4 linked regions of the Homo sapiens genome follow. The protein of the gene in region 1 purifies or fractionates together with the protein of each later gene. This does not show direct contact. Each region holds a gene or a part of one and is shown in the gene's direction. Other genes may lie near its edges.

Evidence for each region.
Region 2: the proteins of MYH2 (region 1) and TPM1 fractionate together in Homo sapiens (co-fractionation; one large-scale study listed by BioGRID). This does not show direct contact.
Region 3: the proteins of MYH2 (region 1) and MFGE8 purify together in Homo sapiens (co-immunoprecipitation; one large-scale study listed by IntAct). This does not show direct contact.
Region 4: the proteins of MYH2 (region 1) and TMEM200A purify together in Homo sapiens (co-immunoprecipitation; one large-scale study listed by IntAct). This does not show direct contact.

The regions. Positions count from the first base shown.
Region 1 is NC_000017.11:10,532,595-10,536,185, reverse strand, and holds part of MYH2 (myosin-2), read left to right. Parts: intron 1-820; coding exon 821-908; intron 909-995; coding exon 996-1,113; intron 1,114-2,553; coding exon 2,554-2,677; intron 2,678-2,764; coding exon 2,765-2,901; intron 2,902-3,591. UniProt on the Homo sapiens protein: Myosins are actin-based motor molecules with ATPase activity essential for muscle contraction.
Region 2 is NC_000015.10:63,063,201-63,066,757, forward strand, and holds the end of TPM1 (tropomyosin alpha-1 chain), read left to right. Parts: exon of another isoform or gene 1-863; coding exon 864-942; coding exon of another isoform or gene 943-946; exon of another isoform or gene 947-2,695; coding exon 2,696-2,699; coding exon of another isoform or gene 2,700-2,787; 3' UTR 2,788-2,978; downstream 2,979-3,557. UniProt on the Homo sapiens protein: Binds to actin filaments in muscle and non-muscle cells. Plays a central role, in association with the troponin complex, in the calcium dependent regulation of vertebrate striated muscle contraction.
Region 3 is NC_000015.10:88,910,501-88,914,889, reverse strand, and holds the start of MFGE8 (lactadherin isoform a preproprotein), read left to right. Parts: upstream 1-1,510; 5' UTR 1,511-1,570; coding exon 1,571-1,643; intron 1,644-1,721; exon of another isoform or gene 1,722-2,442; coding exon of another isoform or gene 2,443-2,462; intron 2,463-2,713; coding exon of another isoform or gene 2,714-2,766; intron 2,767-4,389.
Region 4 is NC_000006.12:130,441,280-130,443,646, forward strand, and holds the end of TMEM200A (transmembrane protein 200A), read left to right. Parts: coding exon 1-619; 3' UTR 620-1,788; downstream 1,789-2,367.

The DNA.
Region 1 (3,591 bases):
AAAAGTACAAGATCATTCCATGAGTAGTTTAGAAAAGGACTGATAGTAACTAGTGACTCTGTTGATCTAACTTTGGAAAGAAGGGATTTAAATTACTCAGAAATTATTAGTTCACTTTTCATGCTAAGTCAAATAATGAGAAATATTTTATAGAAAATCTTATAGACCATAATACTCTGCCATTCATAATCTAGCTGAGCCATGAAAAAGAGCAATGACATGAACTCAGAGAGACTAAAAGACATCAGTATGGCTAATGAACTCATGAATTCTAGCAGCAAATCTGCAGTGCAGCTAATATGGTATCCTTGCTCTTAATCGAGTCAATTTTCAATTATAATTGGTAGGATTGCTCCCCTGTAGATAATCTCTATCCCCTAAAAATTGATAGAGCTGGAAAAGAGGAGCTGTATTATAAGGAAAACGTCCAAATGTGGTGCAGGCTTCCATTTCCTTATTGGAGAACTATGGAATTTGGTAGAAGAAAGAGCGATCATCTCGCATGGGAAGGCAATGGCCTTGTAAATGTATGTGTATGGCCAGGGACCAGGGTAGAAAGGATGGTGTTGGCATAAACTGAAAAGAAGCACATGCCAGGATGCTTTCCTTGTTCTGTGTGTAACTCTCGGAAACTCAAGTGCAGAAAGATCTATTGAGGAGGAAAAAGCATCTCAGAAGAAGCATTCAAAGTGTTGCCTTATATGAATGCAGTCCATACTGGTCATTCAACTCAGCTATAGATATTGATTTTATAGACACCAATGACTGCTCATATCCATGTCTAGAGCCTAAAATGACAGGATTTTTCCTGGTTTTACAGGAGAATTTGAACAAGCTGATGACCAACCTCAGGAGTACCCATCCTCACTTTGTGAGGTGTATCATCCCCAATGAGACAAAAACTCCTGGTAAGAAATTCCATAATGAAAGTGCAAAGGATGACTGCCACACCTCCTTTTCAACAGCTCTGCAGTGAAATAAATATGCATTTTTAGGTGCCATGGAGCATGAGCTTGTCCTCCACCAGCTGAGGTGTAACGGTGTGCTGGAAGGCATCCGCATCTGTAGGAAAGGATTTCCAAGCAGAATCCTTTATGCAGACTTCAAACAGAGGTCAGTTTCTCCTGATTATGGTGTATTCTGAAGTTTAATATGAACAAGTTTAATGCAAGCAAAACAATTTAGTGAAACATATGCCTCTACTTGTTAGTTTTGTCACAAAAAGAAGTAAAAAAATTACAAGTCTCAAGTCTCGAACACTTTTGTTTTGAGACAAAGTCTTGCTCTGTCACCCAGGCTGGAGTGCAATGGCGTGATCTCAGTTCACTGCAACCTCTGCCTCCTGGGTTCAAGCGATTCTCCTGCCTCAGCCTCCCAAGTAGCTGGGACTACAGGCATATGCCACCACGCCCAGCTAATTTTTGCATTTTTAGTACAGATGGGGTTTCACCATGCTGGCCAGGCTAGTCTCAAACTCCTGACCTCAGGTCATCCGCCAGCCTTGGCCTCCAAAAGTTTTGGGATTACAGGCATGAGCCACCATGCCCAGCCTCAAATACTTTTAAAATATAAATATACAAAATTTTAAGCACCTTGTGGAATTTTCATTGGATTTATCAGGCACTTAGCTTAGCTCATAGATGCACACGTTAACTCCAATAATAATTAAGAACGACCTTTTTGAGTGCTTAATATGTTCAGATTATCTTGTTTAATCCTCGCAAAAACACAGTGCAAGTAGGTACTATTAAGACTTCACTTTATAGATGAATAAGCTGAGGCTCAGGGAAATTAAGGTACTTGCCCAAAGTCACAGTTATTAAGTGGTTGAGTTAGAAACTCTTCCATACAAACATAGCTATTCATTTTCTGTCATTTCCTTTGGTATCATCTATGTTCGTCTTTTTCTCCCACATATTAGACTCCCAGGGTTTCCTGGAGGCAGAGGGAACATGTCACAATGACTGTTCCTCAGGTCCCTTTTCTCCTCTCTAGATAAGCCCATCTTGAGAATCAAAGAAAAGGCAGAGGTGGGGAAGGACTGGGTAGCAGCTGCTAGGAGCTGATCTCTCCCAGGTCTGGGTCAGGTGGCACTGACAGAGGATTCCAGGGCTCAAGATCCAAAGCATGTCTAAGTTTGATTTTAGGTGATTAGGATAGTTCTGAATACCTAAAGTGTACTGTCTACCAAATTCTTCAATGAAAAGTAGCTTTCTTGGATTCAGGGCCTTAAAAAGCAAATGCATCTAGTAAAGATAACAGATTACATTTTATTGGTTAGGCACACCATAATGTGTCCCTTTCTTAAGGCAGAACCCTTTTCTAAGAACAGGGTCTGATGAGACAGAAAGGAAAGTTGCAACTGCGAGGGAAAGGCAAATGGAATAAAAATTGGTTGCCAAAGGGTTGACCATTCAAATAAACAATGTTCTCCTTGTGAACAAAGAATAATATTTTTTTAAAGCTCTGCTTTAAAAAATGAATCATTTAATGTTTAGCTAGCATTTGTGTCATCAGTAAACTAGTTGTTAAAAGCTATATGTACTTCAACAGATACAAGGTATTAAATGCAAGTGCAATCCCTGAAGGGCAATTCATTGATAGCAAGAAGGCCTCTGAGAAGCTCCTTGCATCCATCGACATTGACCACACCCAGTATAAATTTGGGCACACCAAGGTAATTTTCTGTAAATCCTACCTGATGCTATTCCTGTCCCTTTGAACTTTATTAAAGCTTGTGATTTGCAACTCTTTCCATTCACAGGTCTTTTTCAAAGCTGGTCTTCTGGGGCTCCTAGAGGAGATGCGAGATGACAAGCTGGCCCAGCTGATTACCCGAACCCAGGCCAGGTGCAGAGGGTTCTTGGCAAGAGTGGAGTACCAGAGGATGGTGGAGAGAAGGTATAAAAAATATGTTTATTCACATATTCCATCTTCAAAAACATATTTGAAATGGCTTACAGTTAAGACTCAGCTTATGATAAGGACACTAAAGAAGAAATGAATAAGAGTCCTATAATGAAGTGGGAATACACATGTACCAGAAAACTTAAGGAAGGAACCATCACCATCTGATTGCATGGGTAAAAACTTGAGAAGTTAGGTAAGAAGTGTGTACTTCTTATCTAATAAGATAAAATACACCAGTGAGTAAGCAGAAGCAAACTTTTGCCCTAGCACCTGTTTCTAATATGAATTTATTGGACAGATCATTAGATAAGGGACATTGACCTGCAAAACAGACAGTATACTCAAGAGTGCTTTTACACAGGCTGTAGAGACAACTTTTTCCCTCTGATCATTTATATTATCAAACTCTCATGATTTAAAATATTAGGGGCCATTTATCTGTGAAAGACTTTTTGCAGTAAGTTAACACAATGCATCAGGGAATGTAGCTATTTGGTGATCTAATTTGATGCAAGGACAGAGTTCAAAGACTATAGAGCCAGGTGTCTCAAAGTACAGGATGTCTGTGATCAGGACCATTTCTCCATGTTGAGAAAGGCATTTTACATTGCCACCTATACATCTACACATATACATATGTGTATGCAGATATATAAATAATTTATATGAAGCAAATTTTAT
Region 2 (3,557 bases), on another chromosome or scaffold:
AGATATCCTAAATGTTGAGCTTTGAAGCTTGTGAAGGATTAGCTGTGAACAAGAAAGAAAAAAGACAAATATCTACATCACAGAAGGGATTAGAGAAGGAACTAGTGTTTGGTGCAGATAATAACCAAAATAGTGGAGAAGAGAGAATGACAAATGGTTGCAAAATGATCTGCCAAAGTGCAGCAAAGTATGAAACCTGCAGCATTACAAAAACTAAGTTGCAGACTTGCCATATAAAGTGTGGCGCCCATTGCTTTTCAAGCCTCCTGGACCAGTAATAGGCAGCTTGAGTGGGAAGACCACAGGAGTAGCTTAAATGGCACTAAGAAATCGCTATCCCAGTGGTCTAGTGTGGTCAGGAAGTCAGTGGTTTGAAGGTGGAACCAGATAAGGACTACAGGCTGTAGTCACAAATTGTTCTTCCAAAACACTGCCCTTGCATTTTTTTCCCATTGTTTATAGCTGCAGATGCCTGACTACTCCAGTGTAATTAAAATATAGCTCTGCAAAAGAAAGATGTTCCATTAGCCCCTGCCTCCCCTCACCAGGAGACAGCCTTCTGTGGTTTCGTTTACAATTTAACATGGTTTACTGATATACCTACCATATTTGTTAGGATTTTCATATTGAGTCTTTTTCATTTTATTTTCTAATGGGTTTTGTTCTCTTTGTTTTTGTTTCAATTTACTTAAAACAAAACGCACGCCTCCTGCATTGGCCACCTGCTGCGGCACCAACCCCTTCATGCATTGCCCTTTTCTTGCTGCTGTGTTGGGATGGTGCGCGCACCACCCTCACTCACCCTCCATTTCTTGATCACTCTCCATGTTCTTGCACCTCTGCCTTCCACTTCCTGGTCATAGACGAGCTGTACGCTCAGAAACTGAAGTACAAAGCCATCAGCGAGGAGCTGGACCACGCTCTCAACGATATGACTTCCATGTAAACGTTCATCCACTCTGCCTGCTTACACCCTGCCCTCATGCTAATGTAATAAACTCACCACCATGCCTTCCTTGCTCCCTAATCTCCATCTTTGCACTCTTGTGTTCACCCTTTTTGTCATAACCTAGAATAGTCATTGTTTTTTCACTTTCTGCTAATATAAAGGCCAATTAGATTAAGTCTGTCTATACAAACCATTTTCTTTTCAGAATCCGTTTATTTTGTAAACGCTGAACTAGAGCAGTGAACTAGAATGAGTGACCTTGAGCACTGTCCTTTTGGGAAATTAAGCTAAACTCAAGTAAAACTAGAAGGCCATGCCGTTTGTTGTACAGGAACTTCTCAAAAAATATCAAAATTTGTTTCCTGAAATTCAACTAAGTACAACATAATCATTTTCGTTAAATATAATTTGAAGGAACCCTTAAAGTGTCAGGTTATTGAGAATCTGAGGATAAGGAAATTGGCATGATCCAATACAGCTTTAACAGTGGTACTACAAAAGATCATCTCTTTTACTTTTAAGAATTCTAGAGTAGGCCGGGCACAGTGGCTCACGCCTGTAATCCCAGCACTTTGGGAGGCCGAGGCGGGCGGATCACGAGGTCAGGAGATTGAGACCATCCTGGCTAACACGGTGAAACCCTGTCTCTACTAAAAATACAAAAAAAATTAGCCGGGCGTGGTGGTGGATGCCTGTAGTCCCAGCTACTCAGGAGGCTGAGGCAGGAGAATGGCATGAACCCGGGAGGTGGAGCTTGCAGTCAGCCGAGATCGCACCACCGCACTCCAGCCTGGACGACAGAGCGAGACTCTGTCTCAAGAAAAAAAAGAATGGTAGAGTAAAAAGAACCCTCTGCTGAGTAACCAAGCCTTTAATTTTGTGTTTTTATGAAAGGAATTAAAATACCCACGATAAATATTTACCACAACCTGTGTCAAATAAATGGGAAATTAAACACAGATTGTACAATGTGAGCTTGGGAGTTAATGGCCCAGATTTTACTGTTAGGCAGTAAGAGTTGGAGTAGGTAGTCTTGTTATCATGAGAAGAACCTTGAACAGATACAACTAATTTACATATTACTAACCAAACTTAAACATTAAACTTTTTCTACTACTTTAAATTCTAACCTGGAATGTTTCAGAGTTCTTCATTCTAATATCACCCTGAATTCCATTGAAGCTGGAAATGTCATTTTCCAAGCCCACCTGTCATTCATTTACCCATGCAGAAAAAATGGTAACTTGAAGAGAGTGGCATGTGCCTGCTGCCTTAGAGGTTATAGAATCCCCACAGTCAACAAAAAAGCCTCTAGAGACATGACTGTTGCCATGGAAACCAGAGAAAATGTGTCTTCTCATCCCTCATTTGTAAATGAGGGGGTGGAGCAGATCATCTGTCTCTAAGGTCTTTTTCAGTGCTAAAATGTGGTGATTCTTTGGGAAAAACTTTTTGCATCAAGTATGATTAAATATTCTGAAAGACGAGTGTAGCTTAAAATTTTTTTTGTTTTTAAATTCTGTTCATGGGTCTTCTTAAAATGGACCCTTGCCGAAAGGCGGCCTGTGACGGCCTCAGGTGGGAAGATGGATGTCCTTCCAAGGGTGTGGCTGGCAGTGGGGTTTGCATGACTGCTTCTTGTCTGTGTTTCAAGTGCTCTCATCTATTGGTTTGGTTTCCTTTCTTTTTTTTTTTTTTCTCATTGTGCCACTTTTTTTTTCCTCCCACCTTTTTATCTTCACGCAGATAAGTTTCTTTGCTTCACTTCTCCCAAGACTCCCTCGTCGAGCTGGATGTCCCACCTCTCTGAGCTCTGCATTTGTCTATTCTCCAGCTGACCCTGGTTCTCTCTCTTAGCATCCTGCCTTAGAGCCAGGCACACACTGTGCTTTCTATTGTACAGAAGCTCTTCGTTTCAGTGTCAAATAAACACTGTGTAAGCTATTTCTGTTTGCTATTCTTTTTACTTCTTATTTATTGACATTTTAGTTTCAACATTGAATAAAACTACAAAGCTGCTTCACACATATGAGGGTTAGTGTTTGGCTGCTGCTTTTTCTTTTTAAATACTGAACACTATACAGAATTATATCAGGAGTTTCTAAAGCAGTAGTTCCTTGTTGAACTTCAAAAAAATACCCAGGCCTGCATTCCCTCTCAGAGTTCTGATTTTCAAAGGTTAGAATGAGGTCTGGACATCTGGGGGGGTTTTGGGGGAATTGTGATGGCTCTGCTTTGCAGTCTGGGTCACACAGGGGACATTGCTTGTTGAGAGTTGAAAGGTCTGGCTTGATCAGTGTCTTCCTTTGCTGGAGGTTTAGCTCGGGATGTAGTGACCCCTCTGTGTTGATTATTTCGGTGGCCTTACTTGGGAGGACCTGGCTAACTAATGAAAGGCTCATGATGAATGGTTCTGTAGCTGTCCCATATTACTAGGAAGTTATACATTGAGAAGGGTGAAAAAGAACTTGGATTCAAACAATGTAAGTTTTGGTTATTGTCGATCATCCTTTTATAGCACAAAGAAAAGTTCAAGCTTTTTTGAAGTATATTCATGACTCAGCCACCTTTATTTTGATCATGAAAATGACATCTTAGGTTTTCTAAA
Region 3 (4,389 bases), on another chromosome or scaffold:
AGTATTGTTATTATTTTTTGAGACAGTCTCGCTCTGTTGCCCAGGCTGGAGTGCAGTGGTGCAATCGTGGCTCACTGCAGCCTCGACCTCTTGGGATCAAGCGATCTTCCCACCTCAGCCTCCTGAGTAGCTGGGACTACAGGCATGCGCCTGGAATATTTTTGTATTTCTTTTTTTGTAGAAACAGGGTTTTGCCATGTTGCCCAGGAAGGTCTCGAACTCTTGAGCTTAAGTGATATGCCTACCTCGGCCTCCCCAAGAGCTGGCATTACAGGCTTGAGTCACCACTCCCAGCCTGAAGCATTATTATTATTATTATTATTATTATTATTATTATTATTATTAGAGACAGAGTCTCACTGTGTCACCCAGGCTGGAGTGCAGTGGCATGATCTCGGCTCACTGGGACCTCTGCCGCCTGGGTTCAAGCGATTCTCCTGCCTCAGCCTCCCGAGTAGCTGGGATTACAGGCACCTGCCACTGCGCCCGGCTAATTTTTGTATTTTTAGTAGAGACGGGGTTTCACCATCTTGGCCAGGCTGGTCTTGAACTCCGACCTCAGGTGTTCCACGTGCCTCGGCCTCCCAAAGTGCTGGGATTACAGGTGTGAGCCACCGCACCCAGCCAAAACACTATTATTAAAATCACTTATTTGTAAACAGGTAATATTTGCACATGATAAGTACAAATCATTTAGTAAAAAGTCAACGGTGACAGGCTTGCTTTGTTTTATTCCCTTTCGGCAAACAGGTGCCCATTTCCTCGCATTTTGTCTATGGTGCCTTTCTTGCAACAAAGGCAGAGATGAATAGCTGCTACAGAGACTCAGGGCCTACATATCAGAGAACATTTTCTATTAGGCCCTTTACAGAAACCTTCGCTGATTTTTTTTTTTTAGTATTTTACCATTTCAGACAATGTTGCTATGCTATCTTTGTATATCTGTCATTTTGCACATGGGAGTTTCTGTAGAATGAATCTCTCTATGTGGAAATGCTAGGTCTTAAGGTGTCAGCATTTGTCGTTTTGATAGGTGTTACCAAATAGCCCTCTAGGGAAGTTGAACTAATTTATACTGTCTTCAGCGAAGCATGCTTGGACCTGTTCCCCACAGCCTCCACTAACCTTGTTAACATCTTGATACTTGCCGATCCGAGAAGGGAAACACGATGCTCATTGTAGTTTTAATTTGCATCTATCTGATTATGAATAAAGAGTTAGCATCTTTTCAAGTCTAAAAATCTTAAAAACAAAACTCCTGAACTTTTCCCGCCCAACAGACTCAAGACTCGTGACCCGGCCGTTGGCACGACGCGGGACGCCGGTGTGGCAGTGGCGGAAGAGGCAGATATCGCGGACCACCCCCGCGCCCCCCAATTCCTTTCAACCAATTCCCTCCCAGCCGCGGAGCCCCGCCCCCAGTCCGCCTCTGGCCAGCTTGGGCGGAGCGCACGGCCAGTGGGAGGTGCTGAGCCGCCTGATTTATTCCGGTCCCAGAGGAGAAGGCGCCAGAACCCCGCGGGGTCTGAGCAGCCCAGCGTGCCCATTCCAGCGCCCGCGTCCCCGCAGCATGCCGCGCCCCCGCCTGCTGGCCGCGCTGTGCGGCGCGCTGCTCTGCGCCCCCAGCCTCCTCGTCGCCCTGGGTGAGTGGATCGCGCCGCCCTCTGCCCCTCGCCCCTCCTCCCCGCGCCGCTCGGAAGTTTGCCCGGCGCCCGCCCTCCACCTCCACTGTTGACAAACTTAGACAAAGCCCCGGGGACCGGGCTGGGCAGAGGGGCGGCTTCTTCCGCTGCGCCCTGGCGGGACAGGGGGATGCGGCCCTGCTGTCTCTGCGCTGGGGCTTTTGGGCTGGGACTCGGGACATCGGGTGACAGCCCTGCCGCCCCCAGGGATGCGGCTTACAGATAATGACAAAGGAATCCGCTGTGTCGGGCCTCTCTTTTCCCTGGTGAAAAATGAGGCCAGGGAACTGCGTTTGACTTTCGAACCCCTTCCACCTGGGAGATTCTAGGACTCTAGTATGGATAAGTCTTGTCTGGATAACTTTGTCCTGGCCATCTCCCTGCCAACTCCAGTTGGCTGGACAGTTCATTGGATTTTTGCGCTCCCAATTGTCCGTGCCTGGTCACATAAGGGAAGGGCCGGGGAGTCGGTGCAATGGACGCAGGCCGTAAGTGGGGCCCGGGAGGGGACCCAGAGGCTTCGAGGAGCTTGGAAGAGGGCTGCCTGCTGATGGGAGTCTCCTGACTCCCTCCCTCCCGCGGCCTTGGCCGGCTGCTGTATCTTCCCCGGTCCTCCTCCGCCTCCCAGGAGGCCTCCGGAGGCCAGCTGGGCCCCTTGCAGGCTGGACTTGCGGATGCCCCGTGCCATTCACCGTGGAGCGCTGGGAGGGAGTCAGGGCCAGGACTCTTTAGGTGGCCCCTCCATCATTTTCTCATAGAAATGGGATTGACTGAAGCAAGGTAGGTAACAGCTGAGCCCCAGCCCTATGTCCTGTGATCTGCCTGACCCTCGGGGCTAGAGCTTCCAGAGTGCTCCAAGCTCCCAGGAACTTGGGAGCTCCTGGCCCTCCCCGGCCACCATGAAAGACAGCTGGATCTTCTTAGCCCCTTTCTACTCTTCCCTGTACCCCCCAACCTGAACTCTGGCCAAATGTTACTGGAAAGTCCCCGAAAGAGCAGGACTCTGAAGTCCCAAAGATGTTTTTATACAGGGTGATGTGGCCTTTTCCAGAAGGAGGAAACACCATACCTATCTTACACACAGGTAACGTGGCTGGGTAGAGTACACCTTTCCCTTTCCCTTTTTCCCACTGGACCGTTTTGCCCTGGAGCAGTGTAGGGAGAGGGCCGGTGCAGTTGGGAGGGAAGAGTCCATTCCCAACCCAAGCCTCTGTCTGTGTCAATGCTCGCCCCCGCCTGCCAGGTCAGAGGAAGGATTACCTGCTATTTAAAGCCAATGACTAATAGCTCCTTGGGAGCCACTTTAAGCTCCTGAGGCCCCTGGAGGGGGAGCTCTGAGGGCAGATCGCTCATTAATGGTGTTGTTGCCTTCCCTGGAGTGGGATGAAGGGGCTTTGAGATTTCAGGAGGACTCTCCAGCCTTAGATGGGTGACTCTGAGGGGGAGGCAAAAAGGTTTTTTTTTTTTTCTTTTTTCTTTTTGAGATGGAATCTTGCTGTGTCGCCCAGGCTGGAGTGCAGTGGCGCGGTCTTGGCTCACTACAAGCTTCGCCCGCTGGGTTCATGCCATTCTCTTTCCTCAGCCTCCCAAGTAGCTGGGACTACAGGCACCTGCCACCACGCCCGGCCCGGCTAATTTTTTGTATTTTTAGTAGAGACGGGGTTTCACCGTGTTAGCCAGGATGATCTGGATCTCCTGACCTCATGATCCTCCCACCTCGGCCTCCCAAAGTGCTGGGATTACAGGTGTGAGCCACCATGCCCGGCCAAGGCAAAAAGATGTCTCATGTCTTGCTCCAAATGACAGATTTGGGTGTAGGGTCTGGGGCAGCCCTTCTGGGATGCTAATGTCGGCTAGAGGACTCCTGTTGGGCCCGGCCGACCCACCAGAGTCAAGGGATTGAGGACAGGCCCTCCTGTTCCTTCTCCTGTGTTCTCCACCACCGGGGCTGATAGTGTACATCTGTCATCCAGGTTCCCATCCAGAAGCCCTGGTGGCCTCTCCAGCCCTTGCCCCCTGGTGGTTCTGAAATCACCCTTCCTTTTCACTCCTCTGCCCTGACTTCCTCTCTCACCATGCTCTCCTGCTCTCCACCTTCACCCTCTTCAGTGGGATTTCTGCATTTCAGCCAGAGGGACCTGTCTGCAGCTACCAGATGCTCCCCACCCTGGGAGAGCTCAGCGGCATGTCTGCACATGGGCCTTTTCAGCCTTCTTCATCCCGCAATTGGAACTGACTTTCCCACTCCCATCTCACACTTGAGAATCTCTGTTTCTTGTTTCTTGTTTTTTATTTTATTTTTATTTTTTCTCCCCCCTGGTGGACAATGGTGAGGAGGGTGAAGGAAGGTTAAAAGCCACTGCTCTACGGGATGAAAAACTAAACTTGTCATTCTTCAGATCCCTCCCAGTCTGGCCCCAGCCTACCCTTCCAGCTGCATCTAACTGTGCTCCAACATACCACACCCTCTGTGCATCTGCTTTTCTTGGAACATTCTTTACTCATTGCCCAGTCTGGCACCCCCCTTACTTTGTCTTCTAGACCCAGCTCAAATATTCCCTCCTCTGGGGAACTTCTAATTCCCCAGCAGAAATCATGCCTCCAGTGACGGTCCATGCAGGCTTCTGGAGCGTTGGGCAATCTTCCTCATCTGTGGACTTGCTGGCCTCTTTCCCCTTGGCTTCTTGAGGCCTGCGCTGCATCTGAT
Region 4 (2,367 bases), on another chromosome or scaffold:
TGCTTTTACATTGCCTGTGATCAAACTTAATAACTGTGTTATTGATGAGCCCAGTATAGATAACATCACTGAAGATGCTGACAACCTCAAAAGTAGGTCAAGGAATTTGTCAATGGATTCCCTTGTGGTTCCTTTGCCCAACACCAGTGAATCCTTCCAGCCCGTCAGCACAGTGCTACCAAGGAATAATTCCATTGGGGAGTCGTTGTCGAGTCAGTACAAGTCATCTATGGCTCTCGGACCTGGGGCTGGACAGCTCTTGTCTCCTGGGGCTGCCAGAAGACAGTTTGGGTCCAATACATCCTTGCATTTGCTCTCGTCACACTCAAAGTCCTTGGACTTAGACCGGGGTCCCTCCACTCTAACTGTTCAGGCAGAACAACGGAAACATCCAAGTTGGCCTAGGTTGGATCGGAACAACAGCAAGGGATATATGAAACTAGAGAACAAAGAAGACCCGATGGATAGGTTGCTTGTGCCCCAAGTTGCCATCAAAAAGGACTTTACCAATAAGGAGAAGCTTCTTATGATTTCAAGATCTCACAATAATTTGAGTTTTGAACATGATGAGTTTTTGAGTAACAACCTAAAGAGGGGAACTTCTGAAACAAGGTTTTAATGTTAAAAGAATATATCATTTTACAAGGGTATATATTTTAAAACGATTTTCACTGGTGTTTCCTTCTTAAAGTATTGGCTGTAAGCCTTTTTAATCAAATGGTTTGTAGTGTATTAGAATTGGCTGCTTAGTTCTGTAATGAAGATGGTTGTATGTTTGGGTTACTTGTGACTGCAGTACTCTATGTTACCACACATGATTTTATTTTTCTCTTCCTTTGAAAGCATGATCTCTTTTATTAATATGAATGCAAAATGCTTGCATCCAAATTAAAGCTTATTTTCTTTACTTTTAAGTTCTTTGATTGCCCTATTCATAAAATGAAATGTCCAGTATGGAAAACATAGGGTACCAAAGTGTGGACCAGGAGTACAAATTCAGTCCCAATACTCAATACGTATTATAGATGACTATGAGTGCAAACCTTAGGATGTGATTTTCTGAATAATTGTTCTTTGTAGGATTTGGTTACATTATTTAAAATGAAAAAGATCTAGTTTTAGTGTGAGCTCAGTAATGTTAATTGGTTAAGTTCATTGTGAATCTTGAGTTTTAGATAAGTAGTTATTTTTTTCAATATCACTTCTGTTTTTAGTGATATTATATCAAGAAACAACGTATTCAAGAGCCATGGCTGACAGTGCCAGATATACTTAGGGATAAACATCAAAATGCAATTATAGTTGCTATAACGTTAGATACTCGGAATCAAAATTTATTTGCAAGCTGACTTGATAAACTAAATGAACCAATAAAATTTGTAGAAATGCTATCCTGAAATAATTATATACATGAAGACAATGTTGACTAATGAATTAAGATACATTATATACTAGTTAATGCTAACTAGTCTCAGTACCTGTTTTTAGCCATCTGTTACTGTCCAATAGCACCTCATTCCCACATTCTATTTTCCCCCGGTATTCTTTAGATCCTAGTATTTGGAAAACAATCGGCTAACCTTGACATTTCTTTTTACCTTCATATGCCACTATCTCGGTAGTTCAAAAAAATTTAGTTCTTGATAAATTGCCTTGAAGTTTACCTTGTGCTGGAGAGCCTTATGATAACTCCAAAGACTTTCTTACGGTATAATACATGTTGTTTAGGATTGTGTTTCTTAGTCACTGAAGATAATAAATATTAAAATGGATGTTTTCATCAGAAAATTTTCATGTTTTCCTTTAAGGTAACATAATTGTAAGAATTGTTTAATAAAATACTCAGGAAATTCTAAAGGTTTCTCCCAATACCTAAACATTTCTGAACATCAGTATTGCAGTTGTGGAAGAGCAGAAGGAGGATACATTTGTTTGTGTTGCTCCCCAAAATTCCACCTTGCATTTGCATCACAAACTTCCCTCAATTGAGGCAGTTTTCTTTGTTAGAACATTAAGTCTGTGTATTGTAATAGAGTGGGCTCAATATTTTACTATAAAGCATTTAATAAACTGTTATTAATAGAAGTTTGTGTTCTTCACACCTTTGCTATTGCTTTTTAAATAAAATGTACATTTCTGCTTAAAGTACTGTTTTTCACACTTTCAGATATATTCTACTGAGGGCACTTGATACCCTAGTACATGTACTGAGTATCTCGGCTTTTAAATTTTGCTTCTATTCGGTTAAAGAGCTAGGTCTATCCACCTATTTAATTAGACTGTTTTTAAATTTTCTTATCTTGGGATCGTTTTCACTTAAAGTTTCATTGACTCTCAGGAAAATAACCAAATACAGCAAAAGTCAGC